Linked DNA regions of Homo sapiens: region 1 is linked to region 2. Evidence: fine-mapped expression QTL. A gene starts in region 2. The other region holds a variant in brackets. All regions are shown on one strand. Distances are between the middles of the regions.

Region 1 (5,388 bases), 390 kb before region 2:
AACAAATTAGCCGGGCGTAGTGGTGCGCCTGTAATCCCAGCTACTCGGTGCGCCTGTAATCCCAGCTACTCAGGAAGCTGAGGCAGGAGAATCGCTTGAACCCGGGAAACAAAGGTTTCGGTGAGCCAAGATCACACCACTGCACTCTAGCCTTGGCAACAAGAGGGAAACTCCGTTTCAAAAAAAAAAATCCAAAGTTTCATATATTATTATTTATTATTTTTTTATTTTTTTTAGCTTTGAAAGCAGATGCCATGCTTGTTCACTCTTATAGGCAGCTCTGAGTCTGAAGGTTCTGGCTGATGAGATTTGCACAACTAGTCTTGTGTTTTATGCCCAAAGTGCTGATTGTTTCTGTGTAAATTGGTGGTGGACATATTTAACTAACTTCCCCATAATATGAATTTGCAAATTTGTTCTTCGGGGAATGATTGGATACAACTCAACGTGATTTTCTCTCCTCTCTCCTTTTTCTAATTTTTGTTCAGACTAAAATGGCAAATGAATAACACATTATTTTTTCTGAACCATATCCATGACTCATTTGACTCACCCAATAACTATACAAGAAGCATTGAAATAGTATTGATTTCCTTATTCCCTAACTTTTCCTCCCCAGTATTTTTATATCCCAACAATGTATAAATATATACATTTCTCTATGGAGAGTAACACACTTAGACACACATGGAAGTATGGCTTCCATGAAGCCAAAGGATACTGAATTAATTTCCTAAAGTCACAAATAAAACTAGGGAAGAGCCAAGGATTCTCAGCTCAGACTTTTCTAATATTTAGTTCCCTACATTTTTTCAGCTATAGATATTGGACTAAATCTGATCTGGATTGGCTGAAAAATGTAATTTCCATGTAACTATATGATTGCAGCAGCAGCATTTTGAGATGTTTCTGGTCAGAGGAAGACACCAAGGGGCTAATATTTGTTGAACCTTTGAAATTCTGGCAGTTATTTTATATAATTCTTACAATAACATGTGAGATTACTGTTATGATGTTCCTTTCATAGGTGAGAAAACTGTGACACAGGTTAACTTGCCAGAGGTCATGTAGCCTTTGAATAGTAAGGATGGGATCAGACCCACACCATGCGCTGTGCCATTTGCCTATGACATTTAGGAGGCAATACCAGCAACTTTGTTGAGCGTGTTGGGATTGTAGGAGGGGTTAGACCAAGTTATCTGCCACACCCTTTTATGCCATGTCAGGTCTCCAGTGCTGCAAACTCAGCTTTGCATAATCTAATCTAAGCACTAGTGGAATTCAGGAAACTCACAAAGTGCTGGAGAGGTGCTCCTGCCAAACCATCATTCCATTATTGGGCCTTTCCAAGCTGGACCTATTAAAATTCCAAAGAAATTTTATTGCCGAATTGTTTCACTCAAAATGTTTGAATATCAAAGCCGCAAGACACATTTTCTTTCCAGAACGTATGCCTCAGCATAGTTTGTCTGTGTCTTCTACATAGTAAGTGCTCAGTAAATGTTGATGACTTAATGAACTTAATTTCCCTAAATTAGAAGGTAGGAAAATTAATATAGTACACGGTTAATCTATGGTAACCCTAATTGCTAAAGTCAGGAACCTTGTTTACTACTACACAAAAAGCCATTGTCAGAGCTGAGCATGCACTTCTGACTTTCAATTCCCTGGCTATGACCACTAATCCACAGCTCTTCCTTTTCTATTATTTCACAAAATAATTTATATGTACTAAAGGGCCAATGTGGACAACAACATGAATTAAGTAAAATGTCAGCTGTAAGCCTTGCATGGTTCTCTTTGGAGAAAGGCAGATTCATATGCAAGATCATTCTGGGTCAGATCTCACTAACACTCTGGCCATTCATGCATGTGTCACTGCCTCACCACCTGTACAGTTTCATTGCTGCATTGAGGGCAAAATGAACAGGCTTCTGTTTCATGGGTAAGCTCCCAGGAGAAAACTGCATATTGTTCATAATGCTATGCTTGTTCCAATAAAATTTATAAAAATATTTCTTTCTCACTTCCCATAGCTTTCTTGGATGCCTGTGAGTTACAATAAGAATGTTTTATATGTCAGGTCAGCATGTAAATCCGTCTGCAATCACTTCTTGGATGAAAACCAAGATTTAAGTGCTATTAAAATAAATATTTAAGTTTATTCATGAATTATGTAGTTTAACCTTTTTAGGATACAAAAACATTAAAATTATATTTTAATGAAAGGCTAAAGATATATGAAACAATTTAAAACAGCTATAGATCAGTAATTCTTCCTGATTTTGCAAAATTATCTTTCAAACTTTTATAAGTAGTGAATTTATTAATATATACACTGGTTAAATTTAGACTTATTTTTAATTGAGAAATTAAACTATACCACAATAGTTCGCATTTCCAATAACTAATAATTTTGTTCTAATTTAATATATTATCTTAGCAGCTCACATTTTGTTAATTCACTTAGAAACCAATTTATTTATGACCCACTGTTTACAAAACTGAATACTGGACACATGGGTACAAAGTTGATGTTGATCAACTCTGAAGGCAAAATATATCTCTCATTATTTACTTAATATCTTTATTTTATAATTTGAAATCTAAGAATATAAAAAATTCCTGTTTGTTATTTTTTAAAATTATACATACCTGTGTTTTAAATGAATACTTATGGATGTCAGAATCCTTTCGTATAACCTCTTGATATATATATTAGTCAAAAACAATGACAACAAAAATGCAAGAGAAAAATAAATAGAATAAAATAAAGTTCTTTACACCTTTCTTATAATTTGGGGTGGAATTTTCACTTTGTTACTCTGAAATCTTAGAGAATAGTCAAGCATCCAGAGTTATAATCAAATTGTTTAGGCAGGAACACAGCAAA[C/T]GCTCAGATATGTGAGACTATCTGATTACAGAATTCTTCTTTTTGAGTTTGTATATCTAAGGCTAAAGCCAAGGTATACTCTGCATTTTTAAAAATATGTTTCTCTAGCAGGATGTGCTGGTGCACACCTGTACTCCCAACTACTCAGGAGGTGGAAGCAGGAAGATCACTTGAGCTCAGGCAGGGCAACATAGAAAGACTCAGTCTTGAAAATAAATATAGATTTCTCTATGGAGAGTAACACACTTAGGTATGTATTTTAGAAAGACTAATTGTTAGGCCGGGTACGGTGGCTCATGCCTGTAATCCCAGCACTTTGGGAGGCCGAGGCGGGCGGATCACGAGATCAGGATATCAAGACCATCCTGGCTAACACAGTGAAACCCCGTCTCTACTAAAAATACAAAAAAATTAGCTGGGCTTGGTGGTGGGTGCCTGTAGTCCCAGCTACTTGGGAGGCTGAGGTGGGAGAATGGCGTGAACCTGGGAGGTAGAGCTTGCAGTGAGCCGAGATCGTGCCACTGCACTCCAACCTGGGCGACAGAGCAAGACTCTGTCTCAAAAAAAAAAAAAAGACTAATTGTTTCAGAACATAGAATGAAGCTGACCCAGATGGAAAGCAAAGATAACGATGAAAAGATTCATGTGGTAATCTAGGCCAGAAAGGACATTGCCTTGGGCAAAAGAAGTGACCATTTGGTTAGCAATGAGAAGACAAATTTTAAAAGTAGTTGGGACTCATTCTATGCACAAAAATTAACTCAAAGTAGATCATAGGCCCCAGTGTAAGAGCTTAAACATCTACAACTCCAAAAACAAATGTAGTGAATCTTCATAACCTTGGGCTAGGCAAAGTCATCTTTGATAGGATAATAAAAACACAGGCAACAAAAGAAAAAGTAAATACATTAGATCATCAGTTTTTAAAAATGTGTGTTTTAAAGGCTACCATCAAGAAAGTAAAAAGACAACCCACAGAATGGAAGAAATATTTTCTAAACATATATATGTGACTTGTAGGTAGAATATATAAAGAACTCTTACAAATTAACAATAAAAATTCAAAAGACACAGTTTAAAAATGGTCAAAGGATCTGAATAGATATTTCACCAAAGAAAATATACAACAACCAATGCGTACCCGAAAACATGCAAGACATAGTTAACCATCAGAAAAATGCAAACCAAAACTATAATGAGTTACTATTTGATACCTACTAGGATGGGTATAATAAAATCAGACAACCACACGTGTATGTGAAGATGTGGGGAAATTGGAACACTCGTAGACTGCTGGAAAATGTGTAAAATGGTGCAGTTACTTTGGAAAACAGTCTGGCAATCTCTCAAAAGGTTAAAAATAGAGTGATAATGGTAACATGACCCAGCACTTCCTCGTTTAGGTATGTACTTAAGATAAATGTAAACATATGTCCACACCCAAACTGTGCAAGAATGTCTGGCATTATTCTTAATAGCCAAAATGTGAAAACAGTTCAAATTTCTATCAGCTGATAAATGGATAAATATCCACACAGTAGAATTGTGGTTTTTATTTTCTTTTTTTGAGATGGAGTTTCGCTCTTGTCTCCCAGGCTAGAGTGCAATGGCACGATCTCGGCTCACTGCAACCTCCATCTCCCAGGTTCAAGCGATTCTCCTGCCTCAGCCTCCCAAGCAGCTGGGATTACAGGTGCCTGCCACCACGCCTGGCTAATTTTTGTATTTTCATAGAGACAGGTTTCACTATGTTGGCTAGGCTGGTCTTGAACTCCTGACCTCAAGTAATCTGCCCACCTCGGCCTCCCAACGTGCTGGGATTACAAGCATGAGCCACTATGCCCAGCCCATACAGTAGAATATTATTCAGCAATAAAAAGTACCAAAGTACTGATACTCGCTAAAACGTGGATGGACTTTAAAAATATTATGCTAAGTGAAAGAAATCAATTACAAAAGACCATATATTGTATTATTCCATTTATATACAACTTTCAGAATAGAAACATTTAGAGACAGAAAGAACAGTGGTTGCCTGGTGCTGGACACTTTGGGGAGAAATAGAGAGGGACTGCTTTCACGTACGGTGTTCCTTTTTTGTAGTGATGAAAATGTTTGAAAGTTGATTGTGGTGATAGTGGCACAACTTGTGAATATATTTTAAGAAAGGACTTGCATAGTTTAAATGGGTGAATCATACAGTGTGTGAATTATATCTCAATAAAACTATTATGTTACAAAAAATAATTTGGGAAGTAAATGGTTGAATCTTGATTATTGTTTAGATGTGAAATAAGAATATGGGGTGGGAAGAAAGCAAGCCTTTTTTATTTGTCTGTGGGGTAATGGGGCAATAAGGAATACAGAAAAACATGAAGGTTCACAGAAATTGATGAGCTCAGTTTGGGACGTAGCAAATTTGAAGAGTTGGAGATGAATCCATATTGCTAAAACTCAAGAGCAATGCCTAGGGTGGAGATGATACATTCTGGAAG
Region 2 (5,388 bases):
AAATGCAATCCATATCCAAATACCAATGACATTCTTCACAGAAATAGGAAAAAAAATCCTAAAATTTATATGGAACCACCAAAGACCCCGAGTAGCCAAAGCAATTTTGTGCAAAAAGAACAAAGGTGGAGGCATTGTACTACCAGACTTCAAAATATACTATAAAGCTATAGTAAACAAAACAGTAGGTTACTGGCATAAAAAGAGACACATAGATCAATGAAAAAGAGAATTGAGAAATAAATACATGCATTTATAGCCAATTTCATTTTTGACAAAGGCACTAAGAACATACATTGGAGAAATGACAGTTTCTTCAATAAATGGTGCTGAGAAAACTGGATATCCATACGCAGAAGAATGAAACTAAACCCCTGTCTCTCATCATATGCAAAAATCAAATGATAGTGGATTAAAGAGTTAAATGTATGACCTGAAACTATGAAACTACTTGAAGAAAACATTTGGAAATGCTTCAGAACATTGTTCTCGGCAAAAATTTTTTGGTAAGACCTCAAAAGCACAAGCAACAAAGGCAAAAATAGATGAATGGGATTACATCAAACGAAAAAGTTTCAGCACAGCAAAGTAAGCAATAACAGTGAAAAGACACCCAAAGAATAGGAGAAAATATTTGCAAACTACCCATCTGACAAGGAATTAATAACCAGAATATACAAGGAACTCAACAGTCAGAAAACAAAAAATTTGATTTAAAAAAATTGAGCAAATGATCTGAACAGACATTCCACAATAGAAGACATACAAATGGCCAATAGGTATACGATAAAATCTTCAACATCATTAATCATCAGACAAATGCAAATCAAAACCATAATGGGATATCATTTTACCCCTTAAAACAGCTATTATAAAAAAGGCAAAAAAATAACAAATGCTGGGATATAGAGAAAGGAGAACCCTCATACAACCTTGGTGGCAATGTAAACTAGTACAGCCACTGTGGAAAACAGTATGGAGGTTCCTCAAAAAATTGAAAACAGAATTACCATATGATCTAGCAATCTCACTGCTATATATATATCCAAAAGAAGGGAAATCCGTATATTGAAGATATCTCTGCACTCCCATTTTTATCGCAGCACTATTCACAATAGTCTAGATACAGAATCCACCTAAGTACCCATCAATGCATGAATAGATAATGAAAATTGTGGTATATATACACAATGGAATATTATTCAGACATAAAAAGAAGGAAATTTTGTCATTGCAGCAACAAAGATGGAACTGGAGGGCATTATGTTACATGAAATAAGCCAGGCACAGAAAGACAAATATCATGTTCTCACTCATACGCAGGAGCTAAGATAGTTGATCTCATGAAGATACGATGTAGAATGATGGTTACCAGAGGCTGCGAAGGGAAGTAGGGAGTGAGGAATGAAGAGAGGTTGGTTAATGGGTACAAAAATACAGTTAGGTAGAAGGATTAAGTCCTAGTGTTCAATAGCACAGTATGGTTACAAGTGTTAGCAATAATTTATTAGCTATCAGAATAGCTAGAAGATTTCGAATATTTGCAACACAAAGAAATGATAAATGAGGCGGTGGATATTGTAATTACCCCGATTTGATCATGACACATTGTATGCATATATCAAAATATCACATGTACCCCACAAATATGTACATTATGTACCAAAAAAAAAAACTAAAATAAGCAGCAAAAACCACTTCCAGCTAGCATGGTGCTTACGAAATGCCTAAGCTCAGTTATCAGCCAATGAGAGGCATTATAAGATCACCACCATAAAATGGAGGAACTGATGAACTGCAGTTTTCATCTTTAAAAAAATTTTTTGTCCCATTTCCTGTCTTTAGAAACTAGCCTCTGGGCTGGATGGGATTCCCAGCTTCTCCTGTAAAATGCAAAATTGAGGGCTCAAATTGTGGTTTCAATTTACACGTTTCACAGTCCTCTGAGAAGAGACTAAGGTTGGAGGATGCAGGAAGGCCTTAAATAATTCACCTTTTGACTCAAGTGCTCTGAAGATTCCCCAAGCATTTTTGGAAACAGAACACTACCTGGTTGAGACTGGGTTCAAGTACACCACACAGCTACGTTCTGGTGGTGCTCAAGGGGCAAATGCTGTGCTAAATACAAGTCAAGACTGGATTTTAGTGTGGCAAGGCGCATTAACTCAGAGGAAAAAGTGAGGATTTACATCCCACCTGCTAATACTGTGGGTAAACGGATTTCTCTCTCTGAATCTTTAATAGTCACATTTATTTTAATAGAGATGGTTAAGTCGAAAGGATGGTTACGATGATTAAATGAGCCAATAATGAAAACAGCATGTTTTGTAATAATAGAAGCAGCTCACCTTTATTGAGTCCTGTATCATACTTTACATCTATTACCCTATTCAGTACCCAAAGGCCCCCATCATTTGCCAGATGCGCGTCGAGCCGCACTGGGACCACCTACAGACGCTGGACCAGAGCCCACGTCCCTGCGGCTTTGGAGCGCCGCGTCTGCAGCGGCCAGCGCGCCTCACATGGCGGCTCCGGTCACGTCACACAATGCGGCTGCTCCGGGCGCCCACTGCCCAGCACCGCAGGCCTCCTCTGGCCGCCCCTCAAGCAGGTCGCGCAAACGCCATTCCGGGCAGGGGCGCCAGCGCAGCCAGCCAACCTCCCCACCAGGCGGCTCCCACCCAGGGCCCTCCGCGGAGGCCGCTCCGGGGCCAGGAGGCGGCTTCCAGGCTCGAGACCCCGCCTCCCAGGCCCTGCCCGCCCGCAAAAGCCTTCGACACACCTGCAGGGTCTCGGCCTCTGCTCCCGGCCCGCGCCGGGCCCAGGCCCCGCCCTTTGCGGCCCAGCCCAGACCCGGAGGCACCGGAGTCCTCTCCCCACCCTAGGGCGTAAGACCAAAAAAACGCCAATGCCAGAAAGAAGACACTGCACATGCGCAGAACGTTTCCCTAGCCCTACTCCAGAACTACGCTTCCCAGAAGGCCCGGCTGCGACTCCATCTTGGATGACGTCGTGAGGCGCGGCCGCCTCCAGCGGCCTGAGTGATTGCTGTCGGGTTTCCGGGAGAGGGCGCTGTCCTTGCTCAGTGATGGCCGGAGAGCTGCACCCTGCACGTCTGGGCTTGAAGACAGAAATCCACCGTGAGGTGCTCCAAGGAACACTGATGGGCAGTTTTGTTAAAGTGATTGAACTCCGTGGGTACAGGAGTACGTGGAGTAATGAAGGATAATGCCCTGTAACCGCTTCCTCTTAGGAATGCTAGCTTTCACAATTGTGCAAACGGTACGCGAAACGTAATAAACTACAAAATATGTATAAGCTAAAACAGAAAACGAGTATACCACTTCCCAAAAGCAAAAGCGCTTAATGTTAGGTGAACATCCTTCTCATGAATTTACACAAATTTTAACCTAATGGTATAGAGTATCATGACTATCATTTCACTAAGGAATATATATAGTCATCCCTCCTTATCCTGGGGGTGCATATCTATGGATTCAACTAAGCTCAGAATGAAAATACTTAAAAATTCTATCTTACTGAACATGTACAAAGTTTCCCCCTTGTCATTATACCCTAAACAATACAATAAAACTATTTACATAGTATTTACATTGTGTTAGGTGTACAATTAATCTAGACATAATTTAAAATATACAGGAGGAGGTGTGTAGGTTATGCAAATATCAGGTTATTTTCTACCAGAGACTTGAACATCCCTGGATTTGAGTAATCCAGGGAGGTCCTGGTACTAATCCCCCGCGGATACAGAGAGAGGACTTGGCTGTATATGTAAAACAAATTATATATTTCCTGGTCAATAACTTTATTACATTAAAACATGTAGAATCATCTAGAAAAAAACGTATATATTGTCATGTGTATAAACACACATATATATACATATAAAAATATGCGCACATAATACACACACACACACCACCTTTCTGGATGGGAAGTATTGAGGAAATAATTTAAAATAAAGCCTCTTGCCAACCCAGAAAATTCTCTCCACAGATGGAGAAAAGAACAAAACAGTTACATTATTGAATAAACATTAAACCAGACTGCGATGTGCGTCACAGGCAACCCACTAATGAGTTTATGAAGACAGGAAGAACTATCATTTTTTGTATTAGCCGGTCTGGTACAACGCATTCTATTTCCTCAAGGTAAAAATAACTTGTCCTCAAGTAAGATGACTGTACAGCAACATTTGCTATGCATAATTCATCTGAAATTCACCTGATAATTAGGGTAGCCATCAGTGTTAGTTAATTGCCATTATGCAAATGAAAAGTAAAGTTTCTGGTATCTCTATGACACGCAGGTAGTTAACCGCGGGTAGCCAGGAGCCTAGGAGTTTACCACAGAGGCAGGGAGATGGGGTGCAATCTTCCTTGATGCTTACATTTCAAAGACATGACCCAAGGCCATTAAGAAAGACCTTCCTGGGTTGTTAAACTAGCAAGAAGCTTATTTACTTTTTAAAAAGTTTTGCTATATCTCACAGGGACAGAGAAGGGATTTACAATTACAAGTTTTCTTAAGGAAATGCTGTAAGAAAAGAGAGGAGTAAAGGTCTTTTTCCCTTTTTGCAAGAAGGAAAATTCAGTTGTTTTATTTTTTTCTTTGAGACAGAGTCTGGCTTTGTCACCCAGACTGGGATGCAGTGGCATGATCCCGGCTCACTGCAACCTCTGCCTCCCAGGTTCAAGGAATTCTCTGCTTCAGCCTCCTGAGTAGCTGGGATTACAGTCGCCCACCACCACGCCTGGCTAATTTTTTTTGTATTTTTAGTAGAGACGGGATTTCACCATCTTGGCCAAGGTGGTCTTGAGCTCCTGACTTCGTGATCCACCTGCCTCAGCCTCCCAAAGTGCTGGGATTACAGGCGTGAGCCACTGCGCCCAGCCCAAATTTTTATATTTATATTTACCCTTAGAGAAACTATAAAATTTAACACAATTTCAATCAAAATTTAAATTAAAAAATCTTAACGGGGAGCTTAGTTTTGTTTTACTTGATAAAATAATTTTTAACTTCCTCAGGAAACAACCTCAGGGAATAGCAAGGAACTGAAGACTAAACTCTGATTTTTTTTATCTTATCCAAATTTCTATCTAAGGGGTCTGAGGAGTTATGCCCTACAAACCATAAATTCATATCAGATGGGTTTTATTTAACCCCATAAAATGTGACTTACTTTCCAACCAGACTCTGGCATAACATTATGAGACAAGGAAGAAAATAAAAACATTTTACCCCAAAAACATGTTTGTCACATTTTGAAATGGCCCTGCAAGCCGTCCTTTGTGGGAAAATTTGCATCTCTAAATAATCTCTATTAACTAACATAGCTAGGCCTTTTCCTTCCAGGCCCTTCTA

The links. PIP is the estimated chance that this variant, and not a neighbour inherited with it, causes the effect. A credible set is the group of variants that fine-mapping cannot tell apart.
Region 1: its variant is the best candidate, but not a certain one, in a credible set for the expression of ZNF25 in whole blood (INTERVAL, PIP 0.80).

The regions. Positions count from the first base shown.
Region 1 is chr10:37,580,538-37,585,925 of GRCh38, forward strand. No RefSeq gene overlaps it. Among named protein-coding and RNA genes, the nearest start is that of LINC00993, 270 kb to the left of the region's middle. The variant C/T (reference allele first, on the strand shown) is at 2,894.
Region 2 is chr10:37,973,724-37,979,111 of GRCh38, forward strand. ZNF25 (zinc finger protein 25) reads right to left here and starts at 2,924. Exons shown (of 6, transcript NM_145011.4): 1 at 2,783-2,924. It overlaps ZNF25-DT (ZNF25 divergent transcript), which reads left to right and starts at 3,032. Exons shown (of 6, transcript XR_930830.4): 1 at 3,032-3,282. RefSeq lists enhancers at 1,808-1,897, 2,938-3,167 and a silencer at 2,488-2,897.